Homo sapiens: one gene and its partners. The protein of the gene in region 1 purifies or fractionates together with the protein of each later gene. This does not show direct contact. Each region holds a gene or a part of one and is shown in the gene's direction. Other genes may lie near its edges.

Evidence for each region.
Region 2: the proteins of KATNA1 (region 1) and RPUSD2 fractionate together in Homo sapiens (co-fractionation; one large-scale study listed by BioGRID). This does not show direct contact.
Region 3: the proteins of KATNA1 (region 1) and USP47 purify together in Homo sapiens (affinity purification with western blotting; one study listed by BioGRID). This does not show direct contact.
Region 4: the proteins of KATNA1 (region 1) and SOAT1 purify together in Homo sapiens (affinity purification with mass spectrometry; one large-scale study listed by BioGRID and IntAct). This does not show direct contact.
Region 5: the proteins of KATNA1 (region 1) and AKR7A2 purify together in Homo sapiens (affinity purification with mass spectrometry; one large-scale study listed by BioGRID and IntAct). This does not show direct contact.
Region 6: the proteins of KATNA1 (region 1) and SPTBN1 purify together in Homo sapiens (affinity purification with mass spectrometry; one large-scale study listed by BioGRID and IntAct). This does not show direct contact.
Region 7: the proteins of KATNA1 (region 1) and RTEL1 purify together in Homo sapiens (affinity purification with mass spectrometry; one large-scale study listed by BioGRID and IntAct). This does not show direct contact.

The regions. Positions count from the first base shown.
Region 1 is NC_000006.12:149,631,715-149,636,218, reverse strand, and holds part of KATNA1 (katanin p60 ATPase-containing subunit A1), read left to right. Parts: intron 1-3,302; coding exon 3,303-3,460; intron 3,461-4,504. UniProt on the Homo sapiens protein: Catalytic subunit of a complex which severs microtubules in an ATP-dependent manner. Microtubule severing may promote rapid reorganization of cellular microtubule arrays and the release of microtubules from the centrosome following nucleation.
Region 2 is NC_000015.10:40,571,879-40,576,033, forward strand, and holds the end of RPUSD2 (pseudouridylate synthase RPUSD2), read left to right. Parts: coding exon 1-22; intron 23-1,648; coding exon 1,649-2,383; 3' UTR 2,384-3,071; downstream 3,072-4,155. UniProt on the Homo sapiens protein: Pseudouridine synthase that catalyzes pseudouridylation of mRNAs.
Region 3 is NC_000011.10:11,935,377-11,939,880, forward strand, and holds part of USP47 (ubiquitin carboxyl-terminal hydrolase 47), read left to right. Parts: intron 1-926; coding exon 927-1,134; intron 1,135-2,880; coding exon 2,881-2,996; intron 2,997-4,504. UniProt on the Homo sapiens protein: Ubiquitin-specific protease that specifically deubiquitinates monoubiquitinated DNA polymerase beta (POLB), stabilizing POLB thereby playing a role in base-excision repair (BER). Acts as a regulator of cell growth and genome integrity.
Region 4 is NC_000001.11:179,338,220-179,342,723, forward strand, and holds part of SOAT1 (sterol O-acyltransferase 1), read left to right. Parts: intron 1-1,218; coding exon 1,219-1,326; intron 1,327-2,808; coding exon 2,809-3,091; intron 3,092-3,790; exon of another isoform or gene 3,791-3,894; coding exon 3,895-3,973; intron 3,974-4,504.
Region 5 is NC_000001.11:19,302,932-19,306,775, reverse strand, and holds the end of AKR7A2 (aflatoxin B1 aldehyde reductase member 2), read left to right. Parts: intron 1-628; coding exon 629-758; intron 759-1,427; exon of another isoform or gene 1,428-1,565; intron 1,566-2,389; coding exon 2,390-2,551; 3' UTR 2,552-2,811; downstream 2,812-3,844. UniProt on the Homo sapiens protein: Catalyzes the NADPH-dependent reduction of succinic semialdehyde to gamma-hydroxybutyrate. May have an important role in producing the neuromodulator gamma-hydroxybutyrate (GHB). Has broad substrate specificity.
Region 6 is NC_000002.12:54,640,812-54,645,315, forward strand, and holds part of SPTBN1 (spectrin beta chain, non-erythrocytic 1), read left to right. Parts: intron 1-2,171; coding exon 2,172-2,318; intron 2,319-3,511; coding exon 3,512-3,775; intron 3,776-4,417; coding exon 4,418-4,504. UniProt on the Homo sapiens protein: Fodrin, which seems to be involved in secretion, interacts with calmodulin in a calcium-dependent manner and is thus candidate for the calcium-dependent movement of the cytoskeleton at the membrane.
Region 7 is NC_000020.11:63,660,708-63,665,211, forward strand, and holds part of RTEL1 (regulator of telomere elongation helicase 1), read left to right. Parts: intron 1-590; coding exon 591-789; intron 790-1,142; coding exon 1,143-1,236; intron 1,237-1,766; coding exon of another isoform or gene 1,767-1,838; coding exon 1,839-1,920; intron 1,921-2,121; coding exon 2,122-2,182; intron 2,183-4,504. UniProt on the Homo sapiens protein: A probable ATP-dependent DNA helicase implicated in telomere-length regulation, DNA repair and the maintenance of genomic stability. Acts as an anti-recombinase to counteract toxic recombination and limit crossover during meiosis.

The DNA.
Region 1 (4,504 bases):
GCCAAAGACTTTTACTTAAGTCTAAGCTTTTGTTTAAAGGTACTTAAGATTAAATCATTTAAGTTATAAAGCAAAACATTATCATCTTAAATTTCATTTCAATATTATATATATAGTTTATTTTTATTTTTATTTTTTACCATTTTCTGGTTTGTTTTCTTTTGAGATGGATTTTCTCACTTGTTGCCCAGGCTGGAGTGCAATGGCGCGGTCTCAGCTCACTGCAACCTCCACCTCCCGGGTTCAAGTGATTCTTCTGCCTCAGACTCCCGAGTAGCTGGGATTACAGGAGCCCACCACCACACCCAGCTAATTTTTGTATTTTTAGTAGAGACGGGGTTTCACCATGTAGCCAGCTGGTCTCAAACTCCTGACCTCAGGTGATCTGCTTGCCTCGGCCTCCCAAAGTGCTGGGATTGCAGGCATGAGCCACCATGCCTGGCCTACCATTTTCTTATTGTGGTAAAATATACATAACACTTTACTGTTTTTTGTTTGTTTGTTTGTTTTGAGACGGAGTCTCACTCTGTTGCCCAGGCTGTAGTGCAGTGGCGCAGTCTCGGCTCATTGCAACCTCTGCCTCCTGGGGTCAAGTGATTCTCCTGCCTCAGCCTCCCGAGTAGCTGGAATTACAGGTGTGTGCCACCACACCCAGATAATTTTTTTGTACTTTTAGTAGAGACGGGGTTTTTGCCATGTTGGCCAGGCTGGTCTGGAACTCCTGACCTCAGGTGATCTGCCCTCCTCAGCCTCCCAAAGTACTGAGATTACAGACGTGAGCCACTGCACTTGGCCTTGGCCATTTTTAAGTATACAGTTCAGTGGCATTAAATACATATATAATGTACAACCATCACCATATATAGTTTTTAGGCTGAGTTAAGACCCATTACTATAATACAGTTGAATCAAAACTATATATAGGTTTTTGAGGGTTTTTTGGAGGCAGAGTCTCGGTCTGTTCCCCAGGCTGGAGTATGGTGGTGCAATCATGGCTCACTGCAGCCTTAACTCCTCAGGCTCAAGCAATCCTCCCACCCAGCCTCCAGAGTAGCTGGGGCCACAGGCACAAACCAACATGCCTGGCTTATATTTTTTTTAGAGATGGGTTATTGTTATGTTGCCCAAGATTAGTTTTTAAATTGCGTCAAGATTCCTTTTCTCTTTTATTTTTGAGGTGGAGCCTTACTCTCAAAACTAGGGCCATTTTACTGCATTCCAGACTGGATGACAGAATGAGACCCTGTCTCTAAAAAATATTTGAAAAAAAAAAAAAAGACTGCTTTTAAAAAAATACCTTGGTTGCATATGAATTGAGACCTATTTTAGTCTGTAGGTTGTGACCCATTAGCCATAAAATTAGTATATTCTGATCAGTGTTGTATTGATTTTTAGAAATTATTTACTGATATATAATAGTTGTACATATCTTGGGCATACACATTATATTTTGATTCCTGTATACAATATCTAATGATCAAATCAGGGTAATTGGGATTAATCAGCATTTTAAAAGTTAATTAAACAGAATAAAAATTATCAAAGTAGGGCTGGGCATGGTGGCTCACACCTGTAATCCCAGCACTTTGAGAAGCTGAGGTGAGAGGATGGCTTGAACCCAGGAGTTTGAGGTTATGGTGAGCTATGATCGTGCCACTGTAGTACAGCCTGGGCAACAGAATGAAACCTTGTCTCTAAAACATAAAAATAAAAGTTTGACAAAAATGAAACTTTCACAAGTTGTGCTTTGATGGTTTTTTTTCCCCCTTGGGCTCAAGCAATTCTCTCACCTCAGCCTCTAAAGTAGGCAGGACTACAGGCATGGGCCACCATGCCCAGCTAATTATTCTTGTAGAACTTTAAAGTTATGCCTAACTTTTCAATTTGTTATGCAATTTATTTTATTTTATTTTATTTTATTTTATTTTATTTTATTTTATTTTTTTGAGATGGAGTCTTGCTCTGTTGCCCAGGCAGGAGTGCAATGGTGCGATCTCGGCTCACTGCAACTTCCGCCTCCTGGGTTCAAGCGATTGTTGTGGCTCGGCCTCCCAAGTAGCTGAGATTCCAGGTGCCCGCCACCACACCCAGCTAATTTTTGTATTTTTAATAGAGATGGGGTTTCAACATGTTGGCCAGGCTGGTCTTGAATGCCTGACCTCAGGTGATCTGCCCTCCTTGGCCTCCCAAAGTGTTGAGATTACAGGTGTGAGCCACCGCGCCTGGCCTGTTATGCAATTTATTTATTTATTTATTTATTTGAGCCGGAGTTTCACTCTTGTTGCCCAGGCTGGAGTGCAATGGTGTGATCTCCGGCTTGCCGCAACCTCCGCCTCCCAGGTTCAAGCGATTCTCCTGCCTCAGCCTCCCGAGTAGCTGGGATTACGTGCATGTGCCACCACACCCGGCTATGCAATTTAAATAAGAATATAAATTAGTAGTATGATTTAGTTAGCCTGGATTTTTTTTTTATTTTTTATTTTTTTGAGACAGATTCTTGCTATGTTGCCCAGGCTGGAGTGCAGTGGCGTGATCTTGGCTTTCTGCAACCTCCATCTCCTGGGCTCAAGAGATTCCCCTGCCTCAGCCTCCCAGGTAGCTGGGCCTGTAGGTGCCTGCCCCCATGCCTGGCTAACTTTTTGTATTTTTAGTAGAGATGGGGTTTTTACCATGTTGGCCAGGCTTGTCTCAAACTCCTGAGCTCAAGTGATCCATCTACCTCAGCCTCCCTAAAGTGCTGGGATTACAGGCGTGGATGTTTCCTATCCTGGATGTTTTAATTCATTTTATCAGAATTAATTTTGCAATTGAGGGCCGAGCGCAGTGGCTCACGCCTGTAATCCCAGCATTTTGGGAGGCCTAGGCGGGTGGATCACGAGGTCAGGAGATCAAGACCATCCTGGCTAACATGGTGAAACCCTGTCTCTACTAAAAATACACAAAATTAGCCAGGCGTGGTGGCGGGCGCCTGTAGTCCCAGCTACTCGGGAGGCTGAGGCAGGAGAATGGCCTGAACCCAGGAAGCAGAGCTTGCAATGAGCCGAGAGTGATCACGCCACTGCACTCCAGCCTGGGCGACAGAGTGAGACTCCATCTCCAAAAAAAAAAAAAAAAAAAATTGCAATTGAAAACATAAATTTAATAAACTGTTATTAACATTTTGATAGAATATCTTGATGTGGTTTACTGGATATCTGATATCAAAATGGAGTTTTGTAACATCTCTAGTAAATGGCCCTCATTTAATTTTGACAGTGATATATTATAGAAATTTAAACATCCATCTTCTTCTTTGAAATCAGGTTTGGCAGGAAATAAATGTGGAAGCTAAACATGTTAAAGATATCATGAAAACACTAGAGAGCTTTAAACTGGACAGCACTCCCTTGAAAGCGGCACAGCATGACCTTCCAGCTTCTGAGGGAGAAGTCTGGTCCATGCCTGTACCTGTTGAACGAAGGTAAGTGGAAACCTTTTAAGAAACCAGTTATCCCAAGAAGCTTATAGCATTGATTATATTTAGGAGGAGGATGGGGTGGCTGAGAGACAGGAATGGGAGGGAGTTTTCTTTACTGAACGTTCTCTCTTTTATAACTCACTGGTCTTGAACCTTGTGCCTTTTTGACCTATTTCAAAAAATAAGATTTAGGTAGGAATAATTTAAAAATATGCTTTTGTGAATGACCTTACAGTGGTAGAGACAGTGTTATCTTGTGGAAGGAGAATGGGGTTAGGAATTGAAATATCCAAGCTCCGTGTCTGTCTTTGCCACTCTCTGTAGCTTTGGGAAAATAATAAAACCTTTTTAGGCCTCAGATTTTTCTTTTTTTTCTTTTTTTTTTTTTTAGACAGAGTCTCACTCTGTCACGAGGCTGGAGTGCAGTGGCACGATCTCGGCTCGCTGCAATCTCTGCCTCCCGGGTTCAAGTGACTTCCCTGCCTCAGCCTCCTGAGCAGCTGGGACTACAGGCACACACCACCTGTATTTTAGTAGAGACGGGGTTTCACCATGTTGGCCAGGCTGGTCTCGTTCTCCTCACCTCGTGATCCACCTGCCTCAGCCTCCCAAAGTGCTGGGATTACAGGCCTGAGCCACCGTGCCCAGCCAGGCCTCAGATTTTTCTTACGCAAAGAGAGGAAGTTAGACTAACAGTGGTTCTCAAACAGGGATCACAGAATACTTCTTTTCATCAAGCTATAATGAAAAATGGAAAATTTTTCTAAATTTGCTAAAATTGAAAAAATTGGCTTTTTAATTCATAGAGAACAGTAAAAATAAAATGTTCTGAATTTTAGGGTTTTCTCTGGCTTTTTTTCCCCAACTTCCTACTACCAAGTGCCAGCAGATGAACAACTAGTGATACTGATATTTACTGAAATACTGTAACTAGCCAATCATGCATAGTTTTACTGCACATTTTTCAACTGACAAGTGTGCAGGTGGATGTTATCTATTTCACTTACATAATAGATTTCCTAGTTTGTATTATAGATTTAAATATTG
Region 2 (4,155 bases), on another chromosome or scaffold:
CGAGCAGGTTCGGGACCGGCAGGTGAGTCAGGCTTTTGTCTCCTACAGGCCACTTCTTGGGCTCACGAATGCTCTGTGTCAAAAGGGCATCATGGAGTTCCGAAGTGGTCCTTCATATTTATCTGGCCATCCTTCCTACCTTCCTACCTTAAGGCAGGTCAACACCTAAAGTGCCAAATGCAGGATATCTCATATGTTTCCAAAAAAATCTTTAGAGATGGCATACACTGCCTCTCTTAGTAGTTTGCTATTTTGAAGCTTTAAAATGCTGACAAGGCCAGGCTCACACCTGTAATCCCAGCATTTTGGGAGGCTGAGGTGGGAGGATAGCTTGAGCCCAGGAGGTAGAGACCAGCCTGGGCAAAATAGGGAGACCCTATCTCTACAAAAAAAAAAAAAAAAGGCCAGGCGCAGTGGCTCACGCCTGTAATCCCAACACTTTGGGAGGCCGAGGCGGGCAGATCACGAGGTCAGGAGATCGAGGTCATCCTGGCTAACACGGTGAAACCCCGTCTCTACTAAAAAAAAATACAAAAAATTAGCTGGGCGTGGTGGCGGGCACCTATAGTCCCAGCTACTCGGGAGGCTGAGGCAGGAGAATGGTGTGAACCCAAGAGGTGGAGCTTGCAGTGAGCCGAATCGCGCCACCGCACTCCAGCCTGGGTGACAGAGTGAGACTCTGTCTCAAAAAAAAAAAAAAAAACTTACCCTGGCATGGTGGCACATGCCTGTAGTCCCAGCTACTTGGGAGGCTGAGATAGGAGGATCACTTGGCCATGGGAGGTTGAGGCTGCAGTGAGCCATGAGCATGTCACTGCGTTCCAGCCTGAGCTATAGAACAAGACTCCGTCTCAAAGAAATAAATTAACATAAGAAAATAAAGTGCTGACAGGCTGAGCAAGGCTTTTAAGATTATGGGGAGAGCCTGCTTGGTGAAAAGATTCTAGATGTAGTTGGAAAAGTCTTGGGTAGAGGAGTTTAATGGTAATGATTGTTGTCCTGAGACTTGTAATTCTGGATCTGAATCATAATACATTTATTGAGTGCATGCTATATACCAGGCTTAGTATCAAGCACATTAGAGCCTAACTTACTGAATGCTTATCACAGCCCAATGAGGTAAATGCTTTTCTTTTCTTTTCTTTTTTTTTTTTTTTTTTTTTGAGATGGAGTTTCGCTCTTGTTGCCCAGTCTGGAGTGCAATGGTGTGATCCTGGCTCACTGCAACCTCCGCCTCCTGGGTTCAAGCAATTATCCTGCCTCAGCCTCCCAGGTAGCTGGGATGACTGGCATGCGCCACCACGCCTGGCTAATTTTGTATTTTTTAGTAGAGACGGGGTTTCTTCATGTTGGTCAGGCTGGTCTCGAACTTTCGACCTCAGGTGATCCACCCACCTCAGCTTCCCAAAGTGCTGGGATTACAGGCGTGAGCCACCTCACCCAGCTGGTAAATGCTTTTCTAATTTCACATTTTCTAGATGAGTTAGTAGGATTTAGAGGTTAAGTAATGTACCCAAGATCGCAAAACTGGCGAATGGTAGAGCTGGAGTTTGAATTTTCTGACACTGGTCCTTATCACTCCACAAAGAGTTTGGACTCCATGAATTTAGGCTTTGTACTGACTTTCTCCCTCTTCCCTCCTATGTAGCTGGAGAAGGAGTACGTGTGCCGGGTGGAAGGGGAGTTCCCCACTGAGGAAGTGACCTGTAAAGAACCCATCTTAGTGGTGTCTTACAAAGTAGGGGTGTGCCGTGTAGATCCCCGGGGCAAGCCCTGTGAGACAGTGTTCCAGAGGCTAAGCTACAATGGCCAGTCCAGTGTGGTACGGTGCCGGCCACTCACAGGCCGCACACACCAGATTCGAGTCCACCTTCAGTTCTTGGGCCATCCCATTCTCAACGACCCCATCTACAACTCAGTTGCCTGGGGTCCTTCTCGAGGCCGGGGCGGCTACATTCCCAAGACAAACGAGGAGTTGCTACGGGACCTGGTAGCAGAGCACCAGGCCAAACAGAGCCTGGATGTGCTAGATCTCTGTGAGGGTGACCTGTCCCCAGGACTCACAGACTCTACGGCCCCCTCCTCAGAGTTGGGCAAGGACGACCTGGAAGAGTTGGCTGCAGCTGCCCAGAAGATGGAGGAAGTAGCTGAGGCAGCCCCTCAGGAGTTGGACACAATAGCCTTGGCATCAGAGAAGGCAGTTGAAACAGATGTCATGAATCAAGAGACAGACCCACTCTGTGCAGAGTGCCGGCTGGTGCGACAGGATCCCTTGCCCCAAGACCTTGTGATGTTCCTACATGCCCTACGCTATAAAGGGCCAGGCTTTGAGTACTTTTCACCAATGCCTGCCTGGGCACAGGATGACTGGCAAAAGGACTGAGGGTGTGGCCAATGGAGGGATTGCTTCTTGGGTTGTGACAAGGATGGGCTATAGGGCAAGGGCTGACCCCATGGGCTAGTACTTGGGGTTTCTATAGGAATGAGGACGGGCTTCTAAAGAGACCTGCTCATACTTGCTACCTCCTTCCAGTGGGAATTTGGAGACTTTTTGGTTTGTAAATATATCCCTTTTTCTAACATCTTTGATGTCTGGTTTTCTTCCGGCTTCTTTTTTATTACTGATGTAAAATTCACATAACATAAAATTAACCACTTTAACTAGCCAGGCACAGTGGCTCATGGCTATAATCCTAGTACTTTGGGAGGTAGAAGTGAAAGGATCACTGGAGGCCAAGAGTTCAAGGTTAAAGTGAACTGTGATTGTGCTGCTGCACTCCAGAGCCTAGGTGACAGAGTGAGACCCTGTCTCTTAAAAAAAAAAAAAATTAACCAATTTAAGATGTACAGCGTAGTCACATTTAGTACATTCACAGTGTTGTACAACCATAACCTCATATATTTCCAAAACATTTTCATCACCCCAAAAGGAAACCTGTACCCATTAAGTAAGTGGTCACTTTCCACTCCCCTTCCACCAGCCTCTGGCAACCACTAATCTACTTTCTGTCTGTTTGGATTTGCCTGTTTATTCTGGACATTTTATATAAATGGAATGATAAAACATGTGACCTATGTCTCTGTTTCCCTTGGCATAATGTTTTCAAGGTTTATTCAACTTGTAGCATGTATCGGTACTTCATTCTTTTTTTATGGCAGAATAAGCTGTTGTATGGATATACCACGATTTGTCTATCTGTTCATCAGTTAATGGACATTTGGGTTGTTTCCACCATTTCATTATTGTGGATAGTGCTGCTGTGAACATTAAATATGTTTTCAGTTCTTTTGGGTATATACCTCACAGTGGAATTGCTGGGTCATATGGTAATTCTATGTTTAAATGTTTGAGAATCCACCAAACTTTTCCACAGCAGCTGAACCATTTTATATTGCCACCAGCAAGCATAGGGTTTCAATTTCTCTACATCTTCACCAACATTTGTTTTGTTTTGATTATAGTCATCCTAGTAGGAGTGAAGTGGCATCTCATTCTGGGTTGTTAGTCTTTTTGTTGTGGAGTGTAAGTGTTCTTTATATATTCTGGATGTGAGAGTCTTAGCAAAAAGACTAACAGCCCAACTTAAAAATGGGCAAAGGATTGGAATAGACATTTTTCCAAAGAAGATATACAAATGACCAGCTAACATATGAAAAAAAAAAAAGCTGAACATTATTAGTTATCAGGGAATGCAAATCAAAACTGTGGCATTAGTATAAGAATAGACATAGAGTGATGGAATAAAATCAAGAGTCAAGAAATAAACCCATCCATCTAAGGTCAATTGGTTTTTGACAAAAGTGCTAAGACTGTTCAGTGGGGAGAGAATAGTCTTAAACAAATGTGTTTTTTCTTAAACAGTTCGTGCTGGGAAAACTGGGTATTCACATAAAAAAGAAAAAAGTTAGACCCCTACCTCATACACAAAAATTAACTGAAAATAGGCCAAGGACAATGGCTTACACCTACAATCCCAACACTTTGGGAGGCCGAGGCAGGAGGATCCCTTGAGGCCAGAAGTTTGAGAACACCCTGGGCAACATAGCAAGACCTTATCTCTACAATAAATAAATAAATCAGCTGCGTGCGATGATGTACGCCTGTAGCCCTAGGTACTCGGAAGGCTGAGGCAAAAGGATTAGTTGAGCCCAGGA
Region 3 (4,504 bases), on another chromosome or scaffold:
CTCTGGATTTGCTTCATTTTGGTAAAAATTCTTTAAATATAATGGTGGACTGCAAGCATTAGTCTTGAAAATAGGAAGTAAAAGTTCGCAAATAAAAAGAAACAAACAAACAGAAAAGAGAAATAAGTCAATCTTATATGCCAAAAATAGAGCTTCATTGTTGGGGATGGGGGTTGGGGAGGAGTAGAGATCAATGGGGATACGCTGAGGCTTACAAGTCCTTCTTGAAACTCATAATCACAACCTTAAATGAACATTGAATACTTCTAAGCAATCCTACTGTGTTTCTCTAGGAGGCTTATTTCCTATCAAGAGAGTTGTTGCAACCAGGGTATGTCATCTATTGGTGACATAAGCTATAAGGAAATGTTATGATAGAAATTCCTATACCATGAGCTTTAAGTATTCTGGAGGCTAATATTGAAAGGGGATATCGTAGAAGCCAAACCCTTTGTGATGGCTTTATGAGACATGCTGTCCTCCTGTACTTAGATTGTTACTAGTTACATGAATTATCAATTCTACTCCAGATTGGATTAAGAAAACAAAAGGTGCATATTCTAGTTGGCTGTTTGGTTGTTTTCCTCTGTGTTTCCAGATTAGTTGATTATGAACAATAGTTACAATACATTGATTTTGTTTCTACACCTAAAGTTTATGATGTTAACTTTTTAAAAAATAAAAAATGTATTTAGTACATGCTTTATATGATTGGAGGGATAATGAAACATAATTATTTAAAAATAACATTTAAGTTGTGCCTGTAACTTTGATGTCTTTGATGCAAATCATAAATGTGTGGATTTTGTTAGGGCCTATTGTAATGTTATTCCCCAACAGACTAAAACACTGTGTATTTATATATGTATATATATAAATATATATGTATATATATTTTTTCTTTCTGGGGGATTACTTTCTTTTAGATGATGGATTTAGAAGAGGTAATACCCCTGGATTGCTGTCGCCTTGTTAAATATGATGAGTTTCATGATTATCTAGAACGGTCATATGAAGGAGAAGAAGATACACCAATGGGGCTTCTACTAGGTGGCGTCAAGTCAACATATATGTTTGATCTGCTGTTGGAGACGAGAAAGCCTGATCAGGTTTTCCAATCTTATAAACCTGGAGGTGAGCAATTTTACACTATTTTTAGTTGTTCTGTACTTAGAATTTTCATGAGAAAGTTTTTTTTTTTATTGTAGAAATGAACATAATTTAAATTTTGTATATGGTCTTAAAATGTAGAATAATTTTGACAGGTTGAGAAGTACTCAGCAACAGCTTGGAATTAAGTTCTAGATTACTTGCAAAGAGTTGTGTACATAATTTTAAAAACAACAAAAAACAACAAAGCTTCTAGCTTACGGTCTTCAGTGGGTTTTTTCTTCTCCAGTGGGCGGTACTGAATCATTCTGGATGCTGTCAATCCCTAAAGTTATCAATTGCTCTCTTAGGAAGATCTCTCTTTCTCTTTCTTTCTCTTTATGGAGAAGACCTTGGTCCAAAAAAGTATATTCCCATAAAGTCTCAGAAGTAGAGGCTGTTTTTCAGGTCTTCTTTGGAAGGGTGGATTCATTATCCCATCACTGTCAGCATTTACAATTTTTCGTCATCCTCTCTATTTCTACAGGTCCCAGGGACTTCATCTTTTCTTTCTTCATTAAATCTATCACATTCACTCAGCACATTGAGTTTGTTATTTTTTTTTCTTTGAGACTGCTTAGGAAAACCAAAATATCATGCCCCTAGTTTTCCCAGAGACAGTTTCCCTATAGACAGTTACATGGTCTGTTTTTGTCCAGAGTTTTCTATAATTACCATATGTAAATTGTAACAAATAGAAGAAAAGCAGAATGTTTATATAATTTTACAAAATCCATACTGTTTTGTCTTGGCCCTAACTCCTTTGCATCAGTGGTTAGTGAGAATTAGGTTCTCTGTGTTTTTTCCCTAAAAGTTGAACTTACAAAACTTTATTCTGCCCTTTTACAATAATGTTCTTCTGTGGATCCTGTATATCTCCTTTTTAAATGAAGGCCTCTGTTTACAGAGTAGGTTAGATGTAGTATTCTTTCAAGGAGTCTACGGCTCTTAAGTGGGAAAATTTTATTTCTGGAAACCTTATGATGTCTACTTCGACTTCTAAGACTCTACCCTATCTATAAAGAGTCCCTTAAGGACATTTCCTTGCTTTTTTTTTTTTTTTGCTAGACAAGAAAAAGAATGATTAGGATATAACATGAGTCAGCAGTAATACCACTTATTTGAAAGAGAACTCTAAATGCAAGTGTGGATTGTAAGACTTATAAAGTAGTCTTTATTCATTAATAATCAAGATCTTAGCAGAATATTTTGTCAAATTTAGATTAACAACGTAGGGAAAAAACTGAGGATTGACATAAAACATGAGGTTAAAACAGATACAGAATAACTGTGTATTAAGTACAATGTTTGAAGATCATTTATTTTTCAAGTGATTAAGAGTTTAATTGTAAACATAACCTTCTGAAAACAGAAGAGAATGGGATTAAATTTCAATATAAAAGATTTAAGTGAGAAAACAAAGGCATAATCAGAACAGTTTTTGTGTGGAATTTTCCTTGGGATATAGGAAATATTATTTTGAGGATAAGTCTTTGATGATGAACAAGGTGGCTTAATAAGGGGTTTGTTCAAAAGCAAGCAGGAGTGCTGTGTCACCTTTAATATTTGTTTTGCAGTAACTGGTGATTTATATTTATTCAGTGTTGTTTTCATCTGTACTTGGAAGTTTGGATTTGTCACCTGTTAGAAACACATTAAGAATGCATTACTCATGTGAAATACATTAAAAAATAACCTCCAATTCTGTGTTTATGTCTTCAAATGTGACAGAAGTGATGGTGAAAGTTCATGTTGTTGATCTAAAGGCAGAATCTGTAGCTGCTCCTATAACTGTTCGTGCTTACTTAAATCAGACAGTTACAGAATTCAAACAACTGATTTCAAAGGTAAGTTTTAAAAGGGGTCTGTAAATAAATTTTTGAGAGCCTGCTATGTACAAGACACACTATGTGACAGTTATGAATAAGATACATGCTTTACCTCCAGGAGCTAATTAATATTTGTAGTTAGGAGACAACTGTAGTTAAAAGAAACAGATTGAGTAAAGTGTGGAGGTAAGAAAGTGTAAGGCAAGTACATATAACAACTTATATGTGTTGGCTGGATTATCATAAAATACAGGATTGGAAATGTAAGTACAGTTTATTTCATGAAGAGCTTTAAACAGTAAACACGAAAGTTTGGGCTCCTTTTTGGCGTAGGCAATAAGTCGAGTTTTTGTTTTCGTCATTTTTAAGTGCGGCAATGCTGCATTTAGTGTCTGGTGACACTAGACTAGCGTTCCACATGCCTTGAGGGGAGTCAGGAATGGAGAGGAGGAAGCTGTTGAAATAATTCAAGTGCAGTTGTATGACTGGAAATGAGAGAAGGCATGGATTCCAAGAGAGATAGAATCTGTAGGACTTGTAATTGTTAAATGTTGGGGTAAAGCAGATGCACCGATGACCTGAGCCAGGGGTTTCAAACTTGGGTAACCAGAAAAGTAGGGATACATTAATAGAAATAGAGGAGGAAGGTGAGGCTGTAGACTTGACAGGGAAGGTGATGAATTAAATACTGGTGCCATTATGTGAGCTAGTGATAAAGAACATAGGCTCATTCCGATTTTTTGAGCTGGAAAAATATAACAATGAAAACATTCAAATTTTGGGGGGCAAAAGGATTAGTCCACACCAGACAAATGATTATCATCCTTACAAGGGTCCTGTACTCTGCAGAACCCTGAGCATACAAACGGCAGATTTTGCAGGGTTCTTGAACCGTAGGTTAATATTCCCTGGTGTAGTGGAAATTGTTCCATAATTACAAGTTGAGTCCAGTTTTCAGTCATTCATCTTATGGTAGTCTTGTCTTTCATCTCATTATCTGGGGTTGTAAATACCTGTTTAGCAGAGTTGTAGTGAACATTAATGAAAAATAAATAAATGCTCTGAGGAAAAAAATTGTAAGGCATTATGTAAGAGTTGGTGGTTATTATGTTCTAAAAAAAAGTCTATATTTTGACTTCTGTATATGACTTCTAACAATTTTGCTAAAGTAATAACCAAGAAACAAATCATTTTGTGAAATTATATTTTATGATTAAATTGCTTGTAAATGCATACTATGTTGGTATAATATACTGTATATTACATTTTTAAAATATGAATGACAAATGTAAAAAAAATTAGTTTAATAAGCACTCACACATAATACAAAAGAAAGAGACACAGTAGTTTCTTCCCCAAGAAGTTAATAATCTTACTGAGAAAAATATGTCTATAGAGAATAAAGGCAGTCACAAAACATCATGTAAACAAATACAGTATTTTTAACCAGCCTGCTTAAGAATTAGGTATTTATAACTGATGACCTTAGTTGCATTGAAAAGAAATTGTGTTTTTTAAATGTAAAG
Region 4 (4,504 bases), on another chromosome or scaffold:
CTACAAAAAATACAAAAAATTAGCCAGGCTTGGTGGTGCATGCCTGTAATCCCAGCTACTCAAGAGTCTGAGACAGGAGGATCGCTTGAGCCCGGAAGGGTGGAGGTTGCCATGGGCTGAGATTGTGCCCCTGCACTCCAGCCTGAGCACCAGGTGCAACACCCAGCAACTCCAGCCTGGGTGACAGAGCAAGGCTGTCTCAATAAAAAAAAGTGTACTTTTCTTTAAAAAGACATCTTATGCTTATCAAAAGTTACTTTCTGTGAGTCAAGTTGATGTTTACTACTTCCCCTAGATAAGAAGGCCGGTTTTCTAAGCATGTAATGTGCTGTTCAGTGTTTTCTAAGCATGTAATGTATAGTGTTAAGTGTTCTGTTACACTGTAGTTTGAAGGAATTAATCTTTTAAAGTTTACATCTGGGGGAAAACGCAGGCTTTTCACATAAAAGGGAAAAGAAAATTTATTTTAAACATTATAATTAGGATTTTAATGATAGAATTTATACATGAAAAATAAACAAAATTACATATTAAAAAAATTTTTAACCAAGGAAACAAAACATGTTTTCTATGGCTTAGATGAGTTTTTATTAGACTGTGAAGATCCTTGGTCCAGAGATTGAGTAGTAGTATATTAGATTACTCAAAATCATTTAAAAGATTAGCATTATCTTTCCAAAAACAAGTTAAAACAAGTTTAAAAACCTGTTTTAGTCAGATATAAAAGATTATTTAGGAAAAGTCATCTATATTATTGTTATATTCTAAAAGAAAATTAGACCAGTCTTAAATACAAAAGTCAATGAGAAGGTAAAATCTTTGTAAATGGTTGAGTTTTATAGACGTGTAGGGTAGTAATTGGTTATCATCATCATCATGATCAACATTATAGAAACTCATGTCAATTTTAACATTTTGGAAATAGGTAGTACTTAATATATATTAAATTTAGGGAGTAGAATATGAATAGGATTAAAAAATTCTTAACATTTGAAATAGTTTGTTTCCTGTTTTTAGTGACTGGCCTTTGTTTACTTAGAAAACATCCATTTCTGGTAGGTTTTAAAGAATGTAGACCATTCTTTTTTGAGATGTTTTTGGAGAGTGGATTAAGCATCTTCTCAACTGCTTTAAGTTAACTGCTTTAAGAAAAGATTTTATGGTGTTTTAAATTTAAATATACATTATTAACTTGTTTTGTTTGAACTACATTTACAGTGAACTGCTTGAAGTGGACCACATCAGAACAATATATCACATGTTTATTGCCCTCCTCATTCTCTTTATCCTCAGCACACTTGTAGTAGATTACATTGATGAAGGAAGGTAAGACAACAAAAAAGATGGCTGGCTAGTTGATGCATGAGAAGTTAGAGGTTTTCACTAAATTTTGGTAAAGGGTAAATTGATTAAATTGCTTCAGGAAATCCTAAAGCAGCAGATTTGAGGGTGATATTCCTTTGCCCTGAAAAGTTTAACTGATGGAGAAAATTAGAAGTTTCATTACTTTTATTTTTAAAATGGTTTATTTGAATAGACCATAATCAGTAATTTCTAGGTAATTTTCCCAAATGGGAGAACTTTATACACAGTTGACCTACGAACAGCACGGGTTTGAACTGTGCATGTCTATTTATACACAGAATTTTTTCAATCAATGTGTTTAGCACTCTGTATCCATGGGTTCTACATCTGCAAGCAAAGGCTGATTGGGATCTAGAGTATTCCAGGATGCAAAACACACATATAAGAATGGCAGATTTTTCATATCTGTGGGTTCCACGGGGCCAACTGTGGGCCTCGAATTTGCATAAGTTTTGGTGTCTGCACAGTTTCCTGGAACCAACCCCCCATGTATAGGGAGGGATAACTGTATATGACTTATTAACTTTTTGATTGTCTTTATTTAAGATGGTTACTTAAAACAAGTAGCTTATTGGAATTGAAGGTTGAAAAAGTTGATATTTCTTTTTAATGTGAAAGTCAAATTATAGGCCAGGCATGGTTGCTTGTGCCTGTAATCTCAGCACTTTGGGAGGCCGAGGCGGGAGGATCACTTGAGCTTAGGAGTTGGAGACCAGCCTGGGCAACATCTCTACAAAAAATTTAAAAATTAGCTGGGCGTGGTGGCAGACACTTGTAGTTCCAGCTACTCAGGAGGCTGAGATAGGAGGATCGCTTGAGCCAGGGAGGTTGAGGCTGCAGTGGAGCTGTGTTTGTGCCACTGCACTCCAGCCTGGATGCAAAGGAGACCAGATCTCAAAATAAAATTTTAAAACTCAAATTGTAGCTTAAAAAATGACAGCGTGGTAATCATGGATTGAATTATGTACTTTTTTTGAAAATTAAGTTTGGAGATAATGGTATAGTATATTAACATATTTTTAAATTGTACCTATTTCTTCTGAAAAATCATCTTTTGTACATAAGAACGATTGCTGTTTGAATATTTTCCATAGAATATTTTACAGTTAGAAAATTAATGTGAGAATCTAATCTTTCAGAAGTTCAAAGTCCAATTATCTTAGATATCTTAAGTTTGAAGACTGTATTTATCTTAGGGCTTTTAGAAAATTTGTTTCTAAAGAACATATATTGTTGATATATATATATATATATATATTGTAAAGCAGATGGTTAGAAGCAGATCTCTAACTAGCAGAACTATTACATCCATGACTTCAGCGTATTAACGTTGTGGTGTTTCCTAAGGTTGAAAGTTTGGTGTTTGAAACTTTTAAATTCTGTGAACTCAGTGTATATTAAAAATTCACCTCTATGTTCTTTTTCTGTACCTTTTCTCCCCAGGCTGGTGCTTGAGTTCAGCCTCCTGTCTTATGCTTTTGGCAAATTTCCTACCGTTGTTTGGACCTGGTGGATCATGTTCCTGTCTACATTTTCAGTTCCCTATTTTCTGTTTCAACATTGGGCCACTGGCTATAGCAAGAGTTCTCATCCGCTGATCCGTTCTCTCTTCCATGGCTTTCTTTTCATGATCTTCCAGATTGGAGTTCTAGGTTTTGGACCAACATATGTTGTGTTAGCATATACACTGCCACCAGCTTCCCGGTTCATCATTATATTCGAGCAGGTAAGGTTTTAAGTGTTACCCAAGGCGATGCTGTCCTCGGCTAAAATAATAATAATGATGATGACATACTGATACTATTATTTTTAGCTGTATTAACTTGGATAAATTTTCATATATTGTTCTTTTGCCATTATCTGTAAAATTGTTAAACTAGAATCATCTCACCTCTTAAGTTTCATTGTAGCTTCCATGTTCTCTGAATTTTGATAAATAAATTACGTTGAACTTTTTTTTTTTTTTTTGAGACAGAGTCTCGCTCTGTCACCTAGGCTGGAGTGCAGTGGCACCATCTCGGCTCACTGCAACCCCTGCCTCCCAGGTTCAAGTGATTCTTCTGCCTCAGCCTCCCAAGTGGCTGGGACTGCAGGCGCCTGCCACCACACCCGGCTAATTTTTGTATTTTTAGTAGAGATGGGGTTTCACCATATTGGCTAGACTGGTCTCAAACTCCTGACCTTACGATCCGCCTGCCTCGGCCTCCCAAAGTGCTGAGATTACAGGCGTAAGCCACCGCGCCCGGCCACATTGAATTATTTTTGATGCATCAAGATTTTGTTTCTGAATACTTTTTGTAAAAGTCATTTAAATTATAAAATATTTTCATAATTAAAAACTTCACTTTTGAAATGTCAGATTCATTGTTTTGTCATGTAACTATATAATAAAGGTTTTATTTTAATTTGTTTATACACTTATCAGGATTTTCTGACTTTACTGGCTATCTATAATGCATTTGACTAATGGAAAGGACACTTGCAGGAGACTTTCTTTGAAGAGACATCTTTTTCCTCCTGCTTTTGTAGATTCGTTTTGTAATGAAGGCCCACTCATTTGTCAGAGAGAACGTGCCTCGGGTACTAAATTCAGCTAAGGAGAAATCAAGTATGTAATTTCTTTTGTTCATTATTTCTTCCTCCCCTCCCCTCCTCTCCCCCCACCCCATTCCCTTCCCTTCCCTTCCCTTCTTTCCTTCTTTCCTTCCCTCCCTCCCTCTCTCTTTTTCTCTTTCTCTTTCTCTCTCTCTCTCTTTTTCTTTTCTTTTCTTTGTGTAATTTCATTAGTTTAAAGGATTATTGGCTGGATATTTCACCCTTTGTTGTTTTCTGGGATGTCACATTATATAATGTAGAGATTGTGTTTTATTTCAAATATATATTATCCATATTGATTTTGAGGACCACTTCATTGTTTCCTGACTATTCCGGCTTTGCCCTTGAACCTACAATTTTAAAAAATTGATTATCTTTTGCAACTTTGCATTATTTTTATGGAATGTTAATAGCCTCATTACACCTGTGCCTGCCTATTCTTTGCAAATTGTTGCTTCACACTCTAGAAGTTATCTCAGTCACAGGAATAACTTGGTTTAAAGAGATTGGTAATATTCAATTCGTGCAAGAATAAGAAGTCATT
Region 5 (3,844 bases), on another chromosome or scaffold:
CCTGAGCAATCACCTGCTGGGAAGCAAAAAGCGAGCCCAGGATGGGCCAGGCATGGTGGCTCACACCTGTAATCCCAGCACTTTGGGACACCGAAGTGGGAGGGTTACTTGAGCTCATGAGTTCAAGACCAGCCTGGGCAACATGGTCTCTACAAAAAAAAAATGCAAAAAAGTGGTCAGGTGTGGTGGTGCACACCTGTCTGTAGCCCAGCTACTTGGAAGGCTGAGGCAGGAGGATTACTTGAGTCTAAGAGGTTGAGGCTGCAGTGAGCCATAATGATGCCACTGCACTCCAGTGTAGGCAACAGAGTAAGACCATGTATCAAAAAGCAAAAAGAGAGCCCAGGAGGGAATCCTGCCCCATCTGAGCAGCCTTCGTGTCCCTAGGGAAGTCCCTAGGCTACTGAGTCCTCAGGAGTAAAGATCCATTGAGGTCTCTGCTGAGGGGCCCAGCATCCTGGGTGGTTCTGATGCCCAGCAAAGTGGGAGACCTATGACTAGAGAGGACACCCGCCCCTCAGGGCTGCAGGGTGTGGGGTGGGGCAGTGGTCCTGGATGGCTATTTGGTTGCGGCTCCCAGTGTGACCCCCATGGTACTGACCCCTGTGCTAACATCCCCTCTGCACAGCTTCTGGAAGGAGCACCACTTCGAGGCCATTGCGTTGGTGGAGAAGGCCCTGCAGGCCGCATATGGCGCCAGCGCCCCCAGTGTGACCTCGGCTGCCCTCCGGTGGATGTACCACCACTCACAGCTGCAGGTAACCAGCGACCCTGGGTGCTCAGCTTCTTCCCTTCCAGGGGGACCAGCGTCACCTTTAGGTGAAGCCCAAAGCATTTGATTTCTGAATTCCTCTGAAATTTTTCTTTCTTCCAATTCTCATAAGCACTCTTCCCACTGGTCTTTGATGGTATCTGAGTGGAGGCTTTGTAGTGAGGGATTTTCATTACAGGGATTTTCTTATTCCTTAGGCTTTCTGAAGTATGATTATCCCAGTGTTATTGATGAGGAAACCGAGGTTCACCCAGCTATTAAAGTGGCAGACATTTTAACACAGGTTTAACTAAGACCCACCCATCTCACCCTTTTGGTTTCTCTCTCTTGATGCCTCATGTCTTCCTGGTTAAAACTTATTTCCTGATCAGTGGCAGTGACCCACACCTGTAATCCAGCACTTTGGGAGGCCGAGATGGGAGGATTGCTTGATCTCAAGCATTTGAGTCTAGCCTGGGCAAGAAAATGGGACCCTATCTCTACAACAAATCAAAAACATTAGCCAGGTTGTGATGGCTTGCTCCTACGTTCCCAGCTACTCTGGAGGCTGGGATGGGAAGATGGCTTGAGCCTGGGAGGTCAAGGCTGCAGTGAGCTGAGATTACACCACTGCACCTTAGCCTGGGTGACAAAGCAAGACCCTGTCTAAAAAAAACAAGCAAACAACAATGAAAATAACAGCAACAAACTTATCTCCAGCTTCAGCCTTCCATGTTGCATAGTGTCTGGCATATATCCGGTAGATGTTCAGTACGTGGGAGCTGTGTTTTACATAAGTTTTCTCATTCCAATGCTGAAAACAGAGAAAAAGATTGAATGTCATGCCTGCATCGACAGCACATATACTAAAATTGGAATGATACAGAGAAGATTAGTATGGCCCCTGCGCAAGGATGACACGCAAATTTGTGAAGTGTTCCATATTTTTCCGCTGCCACCACCACACCGCACTACCTCCCACCCCCTTTTGTGTACAAAACACAAGGAAAAATATTTTTGTTTGAAAAAAAAAAAGATCGAATGTCAAAACAAGCTTAATAACGTAGCCTGCTTTTTAATTTTTTTGAGACAGAGTCTCACTCTGTTACCCAGGCGGTAGAACAGCAGCACACTCATAGCTCACTGCAACCTCAACCTCCTGGGCTCAAGTGATCCTTCTGCCTCAGCCTCCCTAGTAGCTGGGACAAGGCATGCACCATCACCCCTGGCTAATTTTGTTTTGTTGTTTTTTGTAGAGACAGAGTCTCTCTCTGTTGCCCAGGCTGGTCTTGAACACTTTGGCTCAAGTGTTCTTCCCACCTTGACCTCCCAAAGTGCTGGGATTGCAGGCATGAGCCTCTGTGCCCAGCCAACTTAGCCATTTTTACACAGCTGCTGGGGGCAGAACTGGGCTGTGAATGTAGTTCTGTGTGGAAGCGTCGTGCGGCAGTAGGGGAAAGGATGCGGGTTTCAAGTCACGTGGGTACAGCTATCCAAGGCACCTTAAGTCCTTTCTGGACATACAAGATATAAATATAAACAGAGACCCCAGATCTCAGCAGGGAGGTGGCTGGGACGGCTGTGAGTGGAGTCGCTGTGCAGCAGAAGAGGGTTGAAGTCTGGCCGTCTCCCTTGCAGGGTGCCCACGGGGACGCGGTCATCCTGGGCATGTCCAGCCTGGAGCAGCTGGAGCAGAACTTGGCAGCAACAGAGGAAGGGCCCCTGGAGCCGGCTGTCGTGGATGCCTTTAATCAAGCCTGGCATTTGGTTGCTCACGAATGTCCCAACTACTTCCGCTAGGCCCATCATGGCTCAGGCTGCCCAAGGCTTTTCTGTCACCTCTTTTGTTCTCTCACACTGACCAGTCTTGGCCTTAAGCTGACTTAGAAGGGTTTTTCTGAATTGTCTAGATCCATGCATTATTTTTCTAGCTTCCTGCCTTGCTCCCTATTCACTTTACACTGTGAAAGGTGGGGGGTGAGTCCCACTTGAGCGCTTCCTGTTGAATAAAGCAGGCACTTGACCTGGCTGTAGCCTAGGTCTTGAGTGAACCCCAAAAACTTGCTTTCTCTGCTGTTAACACTTTGTTTCCCATCCTACCTGGGGACTGAGAAAGGGCAGAACCATGGGCTGGAGTCTTCAGAGGGCAGAGGTAGTAGGAGGGTCACAGAAGCACACTGCCCTCCCAGGGTCTCCTCGGGCCCCTGGTCTGAATACCCACCTGACCTCTCAACATTGAGGTGTCTCTCACTCTTCTACACACGATAGAAAAGAGAGTCATACACCTGCAGTACATTTTCTCTAATTCAGAGTTGCCTCAATACATTCTTAGGAATGAAACAACTGGGACAAAGAAACTACCATTAGAGTCACTACCAAGAAGAAGAACACTTCCCAGGATCTGTGGAACATCTTGAAGCTCTCAATCTTAGCCTCCTCTTGTCTTAACTAAAGCCTCTTGTCTTTTCACCCATTAGGTTCTCAGTCTTGGCTCTGGGCCTCCTGTTCGGCATGGGGACAGACATAGGCAGCCAAGGTCCTCATTTCCCTTGGAAACCCCTACTCCAAACAGGAGGCACCAAGGCTGAGAATAAGAATCCTTGGTTCAGTGGTTGCTGAACCTGCTGCATTCCCAGTGCACCAAAATCCCTCCAGCCATGGGCAGGGCAGCAGGCAGCACTTGGAGCAGCTTCTTGAAGCAATGAAAGAGGCCCAACCTGGAAATTTACTTTTTCATTTATATTTATTATTTGTTCTTGAGACAGGCTCTTGCTCTGTCACCTAGACCGGAGTACAGTGGCATGATCACTGCTCACAGCAATTTTGACCTCCGGGGCTCAAGGGATCCTCCCACCTCAGCCTCCCGAGAAGTTTTTATTTTTATTTTTTTTGTGGAGTGGAGATCTCCCTATGTTGTCACCGTCTTTTCTGTTTACCCGTAACAAAACAGATGCTCACCCATGTGGAATGGTGTATCAGTTATCTTTGCACAACAAACCACACTAATAAGTTGCTTGAAAAGATAAAATCCAAGGCTGGCACAGTGGCTCATGGCTATAATCCCAGCACGTTGAGAGCCCAAAGCAGGCAGAT
Region 6 (4,504 bases), on another chromosome or scaffold:
AAAGTGCTGGGATTACAGGTGTGGGCCACCACGCCTGGCCGGTAGTGTTATTTTAATGTGATATCCTGAAAAACGAATGAATGATTTTAAAGGTATTCCTTTTGTGTTGTATGTCCTCACATTACACCACCTATTCTCTGGAACTGATTTTTATTTTTCCAGGAAGGCAGTATATCTACATGTGTCTGGTACAGGGATGTGAGTTAGTCCTTTACTGTTAGCTTGATTCAACGATCAAAGCATTTTTTCCTTATCTTTTTCCAGTCTGCACAGTGTTCTTTTCTGCAGAGAATGAGTAAATTCTTAAATGACCTTTGTAAATGCCCACAAATAATAACTGTAGCTTTGGTTGCAGAGTGCTGATGAACTAGCAAGTTCCATAGATCCATTTCATTGTGCTGTATCGCATGATGCTTTATCTGTAGGATGATGTGTTCAGCAAAGAGCAGATTTGTTTATAAGCCTCTGATTTTTATGTAGCGCGCTCTCTCTCTCTCTCTTTTTAATCCCTCTTGGGTAAGTGGTTATGAATAGCGAAAATATGTGAATGTCCTTGGCACTTTGAATCAATAAATGCCTTCTGTTTTGTGTGTATGTACAGAATACTGGGAAAAATTTTGTCATTAAGTTTTACTTTAACTTCTTTTCCCCTAAGATTGAATAGCCATAGTCTTTCAGATTTTAGCTGCCCAGATAACTGGAACATAGATAATTTTTTCCAAGTAGGAAGTGCGTGCCTTTATTGTCTAATAGATCCATGGTCTTTGATGACAAAGGACTTTATGAGATTTGCTAGTTTTTCCCTCAACAAAGAGTGAAATCAAAAATCTCACTACCTTTTGCTTTTAACCCCCTCCCACCCCCGCCCCCTGCCCCATTCCCTGTGTGGTGAATAGCCTGAGAATAGGGACAGTGCCCAAGAGTTCACCCACTTTCAGAGCCAGAGGGCTCCTGTGACCCACGTCGCTCTCCTTGACATCATTTCCAAAAAACAAATCTCGGGGAGCCTTTCCTGGCAGCAGCCCACAGTGGGAGTGGAAGGGCCTTGGAAGTGTTAATTCTGTAAGTACTTCTACTGGTTTTATGTGTCACTTCTAGATCTTTGTTGGTAGAACCATGAAGGATTTAAGGTGCCAATTTGTTGTGACAATAACTGGTGTAAAAGTGGGCTTCTCACGGTCACTCAGGAGAAGGGACATGGTCCCTTCAGTTGGTTACTTCTGATTCCAGGCTGGCTCTGCATTCTTTTGTGTATCTTCAGCCTGGGCAAACAAAAAGCTCTTCCTAGGTTAGCAAAGCAAATGGGGCGGGAATCAGGACTCTGGCATGGCCCTTACAGGCAGGCAGTAATGAGCCAGGGCCGATTCGGGATGGAAGCCAGCAAAAGTGGGTCTGGGCCTGGCGTTTGGCTGACCCCGGTAAGAGAGCTCCTTTCTCAGGTCTGTCAGCGGCCAGCAGCCTTTGTGCGGCTCTCTAGAGTTCAGATCCAAGCAGACATGTTGGGTCTCAAAATCAAGTCCTGTGAAGTGTTCTTGGTGTGAATGAAAGGTTCTTTAGAGAACTAGAGGCTATAGAAAAAGAGGTGAAGGTGACTCAAACTTGAAGGAAACATTGAAAGGGCATGATTGTTGCCTTAGCCCTACAGTGAGCAAGTTATTTATGCCTTTTTGCATTCCCTTCGATGCACCCACAAAAAGGGGGAGGTAATAAATAAGTAGTTTTTTTTTTTTTTTTTTAATAAAAAGAACTAAGAGAGTAAGAAGGATTGCCAAATGGAGTAAAAGTCAATCATGATTAACATGGTATAGCTGACACAGGTATTTGGAAGAGAAAAAGAGTCATGTCTTGGAGTGGTTAGGGTAGAATTTTAAACACGGGCCTTTTGTGGGGAAAGCCAGTTATGAGTGCCAAACAGTTTGAAAACTGGCTTATAGAGCTTTTGTACTTCTGGAATGAATGTTAGATATAGTTTGGAGCAGAGCTCAGGTACAAGCTCCATCTAATGGACACCTGTCATGACGGGTCAGAGTTGTGAAGTTAAATATTTGGTTGTCTGTCACCATGGAAACGTGTGTAGTATGCATAATATGACATAAACACAACCCTTTCCAGGCGGAAAAAAGGCTGATGTCTAGGATCACAATCTCTGAATCCTTCTGATCTTTCTGTAGCTGTCTCTCTGGATCAATGAGAAGATGCTCACAGCCCAGGACATGTCTTACGATGAAGCCAGAAATCTGCACAGTAAATGGTTGAAGCATCAAGCATTTATGGCAGAACTTGCATCCAACAAAGAATGGCTTGACAAAATCGAGAAGGTGAGTTAAAACATTTGATGTGGCCATGGTGAGAAAACAAACAGGGTAGTAATAAACTCCTTTTTATTTAGCACATTTTCCAGCATATCTGATCTTATCTGTACATTTACGTAAGTTACACAGCCAGTAATAGCTCCCTTTGCACGTACGGGTTCCTGACTTCAACCCATCAAAAGGGAAAAAAGCAGAAACCCAACCAGTTAGTAGAAAATGCTTGATTTATCGTAGAACGAATACTAGGCATTTAGTTTCTGTTGTGCCTCTCATCTGCTGTTGCTGATGGACTGTGAGCTCTCATGCAGGGATTCCACTGTCTTGATCATATTATTTGTGTTGTACTGTGACAGATTGCACATAATTTTAAATATATACATATTTTTTAAAATTGCTTTTTCCTATGAGACTACTGTATACCAGGCGCTATAATAATTACTATGATGTGTTATTCTTGCACAGAGAGATTCTGGGCAGCATAACTGAAGATGAATATGGAGTCCCCCCCTTCCCCCCGACTTCTCTCCTTTTAGACTTTTTATAGTGTTTCAGATTCTTCACGGTTAAAATAATGTGTTGGCAGGGCACGGTGGCTCATGCCTGTAATCCCAGCACTTTGGGAGGCCAAGGCAGATGGATCACTGGAGGCCAGGAGTTTCAGACCAGCTTGGCCAACATGGTGAAACCCCATCTCTATGAAGCATACAAAAATAGCCAGGCCTGGTGGTATGTGCCTGTAATCGCAGCTATTGGGGAGGCTGAGGCACGAGCCCAGGAGGCAGAGGTTGCAGTGAGCTGAGATCACGCCACTGTACTTCAGCCTGGGTGATAGAACGAGACTCTGTCTCAATATAATAACAATAATAATAATAATAATAATAATAATAATGTGTTGTATATCATCTTTGGTCATGGAATGGAGGAGATAAAGTCACGTTATTAGCATTCAGTATTCCGTTGCCCCAGTTGAGACTATTTCAGCATGTAACATTTATTGCTTAATTCCCATGAAACCCTTGTAATGTACACAACCTAGGGGTCGTTGTTGATTTTATTGAGCAGTAACTTCATGTGGAAAGACTGTGTGTATTGAGTGAATGGTTAAATCACAGATCAAATGTCCTAGGTTTGTTTTTCACAGTGACATTTTTTCTGTAGCAAACTTGTTTATTTACAACCATGTTGGTTTTGTTTTCCAGGAAGGAATGCAGCTCATTTCAGAAAAGCCTGAGACGGAAGCTGTGGTGAAGGAGAAACTCACTGGTTTACATAAAATGTGGGAAGTCCTTGAATCCACTACCCAGACAAAGGCCCAGCGGCTCTTTGATGCAAACAAGGCCGAACTTTTCACCCAGAGCTGTGCAGATCTAGACAAATGGCTGCACGGCCTGGAGAGTCAGATTCAGTCTGATGACTATGGCAAAGACCTGACCAGTGTCAATATCCTGCTGAAAAAGCAACAGGCAAGTGGACAAGCCATCATGGACTTGGGTGTATTTCTGTTTTACAGCCATAGTCCTTAGAGTCTTTTCTCACCCACTGCATTATCAGGAGTCCACCTTCCATGGGAAGGCATTTTTAACCCAAAATATTACTTGCTCTAACAGCATCGTAGAACATTTCCAGAATAGAAAGACACTTGTCCAAACTAGAAAGACACAGTATTAGGAGTATTGGGTGTTGGCTGTCTGTGTATGGGATTGATAATTTTCTTAGTTAATGGGTATTATCACCGTTTAACAGTTAAATAAATGTTCATCTCATTCAATTCTGCATTTTACACGAAAGAAATATTCTCATACTTTGTTGTTTAACATCGTGATTTGTGACAGTTATCTGAGTTGTTCAAGGCACTTTATAGGTAATAAAAATAACTGTTTATATTATATCACCGTAGAGGGCTTTAAGGGCAAATGAATTTACCTCAGATTTACTTGAAAACAGTTCCATTGATGTTGAAAAGCAAGTCAGTGGCAAAATGTTTGAGTGGCTCCCATGGCTGGCTTTGCGGTGTGGCCAAGTCCCAGGCCCAGCAGTTCTGCTTAGAGCCAGTCACTGCAAAAGATAGTCTGTGCTGAGCGCTGAGGCTGCTTCTCTGCCCTCAGATGCTGGAGAATCAGATGGAAGTGCGGAAGAAGGAGATCGAAGAGCTCCAAAGCCAAGCCCAGGCCCTGAGTCAGGAAGGGAAGAGC
Region 7 (4,504 bases), on another chromosome or scaffold:
GGGGCCTCTCTGAGGAGCAGCTGATATTCACGGGTCAGGAGGAAGCATTTCCATTAGAGGGGCAGCCGGTGGCCAGCCTCACTTGGAAGGTCTTTGAACCTCGGGGGTGCAGGGAGGTGGCAGTGGTGCAGGTTGCCTTCTCCTGGGTTCCTTGAGGTGCCCTCTTGTACCCGGCTCACACCCTTCCCCTCCCCGAGTTTCCTGCTCAGGTTCCCGTCTGAGAGCTTGTATGTAGGACGTCAGATAGGACAGCATAAATGTTTGGATCCAGAAACGCAGAACAGTTTCCTATTTTGAGACTTGACACCTAATTAGTCATCTTACTATTTAAGCTGAAAAATAGTGTCGTGTTTTGGGTAACGTTCTGCAAATCGTTTGCTAATGGCGGCTGAGTTGCTTCACGCCCTTTAGGGCAAGAGTGGGACTTGCCTGTGGACTTCTCCGCGGTCCCACAGGGCTCTCGCCACCTGGCAGTGGCCTCTGCATCTGCAAAGAGCTGCCCGCTGGCTGCCGAAGCTTGTCTCAGGGCAGCTTGTGTGGCCTCGCCTCTTCCTGGCTTCCCCGTAACCCTTGCTCCGAACTCCGTTCAGAAGGTGAATGGCATCCTGGAGAGCCCTACGGGTACAGGGAAGACGCTGTGCCTGCTGTGCACCACGCTGGCCTGGCGAGAACACCTCCGAGACGGCATCTCTGCCCGCAAGATTGCCGAGAGGGCGCAAGGAGAGCTTTTCCCGGATCGGGCCTTGTCATCCTGGGGCAACGCTGCTGCTGCTGCTGGAGACCCCATAGGTGACCCTAGTTCCCAGGCCTCTCCTGGCCTCCTGTGGGGATGGTTGGCAAGGGATGGCGCTGAGGGTGGGGTGGGCCCATGGGGACTCCTGCCGTCTCTCAAGCAGAACTCAAGGAGAATTTTTTAGCTGCTGTATAATTTCTCGCCATCGTGGGTGTAAACCTAGGGTTGGGCTTTTTTGCTGAATTAGGGCACGGCAGATGCCCACTTCACCCATTTTTGATAAACCAGTATCTGGGGTGTCAGATTCTTGGCTGTCTGCAGGGCCGAGTTAGCCGAATGCCACCTGCCTTTGATACGTGAGAACGTTGTCTGAGAACCGTGACTTCTGTGCTTGCTTGTGTCTGGTCAGCTTGCTACACGGACATCCCAAAGATTATTTACGCCTCCAGGACCCACTCGCAACTCACACAGGTCATCAACGAGCTTCGGAACACCTCCTACCGGTGGGTCAGACGAGTTTACACCTGTCTCGGGGTCCTCAAGAGAACCAGCTTGGCATGGTGCTGAGTCCACAGCCCCATGCTGTGCTGTGGTGGAGGGTGGTGGTCTTTCTAGACGCTCCCCCGAAGTGTGCAGAGCGCTGGTGCCCAGGGGTGGGGTGCGGCCTGGGCTGCCTCCAATGCCCATTACTTGTGAGGAAGCAGCTTTGCATCTGTGTGCTGACCTTGGGCGGGCGTCCTGAGCTCCTCGCAGGTGCTGTTGTAGCAGCTGTGCAGTAGGTCAGGGCTGGCCCCCAGTGCAGCTTTGCACATGAAGTAGGAGGAGGCCCTGCTGCTTGTCAGAGCCCAGCAGAGTCTTGGTGTTCTGTCGGGTTCCTGTGGCCGGACCAGTGGCAGGGTGCTGTGGAAGCTGTCGAATCTCCTCCCTCTGTCCAGTACCCCCGCTCGTCTTCTAGCTCCCTCCTACGCCCGGGCCACGTTTCAGTTATGCTCACTTCCTCTGACCGCCGAGGCTCCTGCGTGTCTCCATACAGCTCACGCTGCAGGGCCACGCTGTGGGTGTTGGAGACAGCTCCTCCTCGACCCACGGTGCTCTCTCCCACCAGGCCTAAGGTGTGTGTGCTGGGCTCCCGGGAGCAGCTGTGCATCCATCCTGAGGTGAAGAAACAAGAGAGTAACCATCTACAGGTAGGCTCCTGGGCTCCCGCTCCGGCTCAGTGTCCGACAGGCGAGTGCTGCTGGGTGTCCAGAGCCCCAGGCTGCGCTCCCGCTGGGCTAGGGTTTGAAGTTCACTGGGGGACTGCAGGGGAGGACCTGGTGGGGGTGGGGACTGGCTTCGGTCCTTTCTTGGCCGTGCTTCAGCTGCGCACTCTGCCCTTCCTCCCACAGATCCACTTGTGCCGTAAGAAGGTGGCAAGTCGCTCCTGTCATTTCTACAACAACGTAGAAGGTACAAGCAGCTGGGTGGGACCAGGGTCGGGTTGGAGTGTGTGCAGCCTCTCAGGGTGGAGCTCAGTGGTGTCACAGCCTGGTTGTGCTTGCCCGGTGGGGCGGCCAGTGCGGCCATGTACCTGGGCCCTGTCTTCTGACTCGGGGCCACCCATGTTAGACTTCTGTGTGGAAGAGCTCACACAGTGGTCTGAGACAGCCAGCCGGCAAGACTGCCTCTGGCTGGTGCCTGGGGCCTTGGATTTTGGGAAGGCTCCCTCCATTTCCTGATGAGAGGGTCTCCCTGCACCTAACCTGCTGGTGCAAACAGTAGGGGTTTTGCTGAACACCGGCTTTCTCTTCGGGGACTTTGTTGCTTGCCCAGCAGCAGGTGCTCCAGTGACCGGCCCTCATACCATCTTGGGAGGGTGTCCTGGAAGCCGTGTCTGGCCTCCCGCGACCCTGCCCCGTGTGTCTTTTTCCTGTGCTGACCTTGCTGCGGAAAATTATGGCCCTGAGTGTGACTCCAGGCTGAGTCCTGTGGGTCCAACACGGGATGCCTTGGGGCCTCTTCTGGAGACGGGATGTGAGTGACAGGAGCCGGCCGGGGCAGCTTGCCCTGTGACTGCACGTGGCCACAGCCTGTGAGGGCCGGGGGTGCTTCTCCACCCACGTGGCTGCCCCTCGGGTATGTCAAGGGCTTCTGGGGCTCATCACGGGGTCCTAGAGACAGTGGCAGGGTGCACCCCCGTTGGCTGCCCTTACAGTTTCTGTGACCTGAGGGTGGCATCTGTGCAGTCGGCGCGGTCTGTGCTTCTGTGGGATCAGGGTTCCCTCTGTTTCCTGCCTCAGTTGGGGCTCAAGCCTCAGGTGAGGTGGCCCCGGAGCACTCAGAAGGCATCGGCGGTCCTGTGGGCTGCTTTCTGCACTCACGTTTGCTGAGTGCTCAGTGTGCCAGGACTGAGGACCCTGAAGCTGCTCTTGTATTTAGGGCGGCGCTCCCCTGGCAGAGACTGAGCCAGGTGGTCCCGCATGACCCACTACCAGGCGTTTCTGGGCCCTGGCCCTTGGAGGGACAGGGTGGGCGGAACATGGGCCTGCAGGGAGGCTCCCGCTTACTGGAGGCATGTGCTGTGTTGCTGGAGACATCCTCTGTGTTGCTTCTTGTTCGCTGTGGTTTTTGGTCTGGTGGCACCAAGGACCCTCAGTCATCTTGATGTGTGGTTGTCCAGGCCTTTTTGTTGGTCCTAAGAAGGGGCTCTGCCTTTGTGCCCCCAGGTTCCCTGACAGGAGCTGCCGGCTCGTCCCGGTGATGCCTGCAGGACGTGACTCTGGGACGGGGGGTTGGGCAGATGTGCTGATGGAAATTCTCAAGCAGGCGTCATTTCCGAGGTCCTCACCTGGATTTCCAGGACAGGAGTGCCTGCTGGGTGTCCCCAGTCCCATGCAGCGGGGGTCCTTGGGATAGCATGGAACGCTGAGCATGGGCCTGGCCGGCCGTGGTCCTGGACAAGGGCAGTGCCCCGGTGGCTGCTGGGCCTGGGACCTGGTGGGGACGCTGGGCCTGGTACCTGGTGGGGATGCTGGGCCTGGGACCTGGTGGGGAGGCCTCTGACTGCCTCCTGGTGCTGCTTCCGTCTGTGTTAGGCCTCTGGGTATTGGGGCCCCCATCTGTCTCCTCCTCCAGGCCTGTGGACTCAGACCAGGAAGACACAGGCCAGCCCCTGCCTGTCCCCCTTGGCTTGGGCTCTCACTGCCCGACCTGGCGGGAGGTTGCCTAGCCGTGAACCTTCGCACCCTGTCTGCCACCGGACAGGCTGTGAGGGGGTGTCTGCAGCACCTGCACCGGCCTGAGCATCTTCAGAGTGGGCTGCAGCTCCTGGAGGGGTCTGAGAGGAAGGGAGGCAGGTATTTTGGGCGAATGAGGAGACAGCTGGAGAGCTGGCACCCTTCCTGGCCTGCGTCCTGTGAGGACTCTGGTTGGGGACAGCAAGCTTGGGGTCAGCCTGGGGCAGAGCCTCTGGGACGGCCCCGCCCCTCGTGCCCCTTCCCCTCGCAGCTCCTGTCCTCGCCCCGCCCTCAGCTCTCCGCCAGGCAAGGTTTGGCAAGTGCCGCTGTGCGGCAGTGCCTGCTGATTGGCTGGTCTGTTGCTATGGTGCTGCCCAGGGGTGTGCTTTTCCTCCCCTGCCTTCCCTGCTATCCCTGGGAGTATCTGGGGTTGGGTCATCGCTGGTGTGTGTGAGTGTGTGTGTGTGTGTATGTGCACGTGTGCATATGTGTGCGCTTCTGGCCTCTGCAGCTGAGTCCTGGCCCTCGGGGGGCCTGGCACCTCCTGGGGACAGGC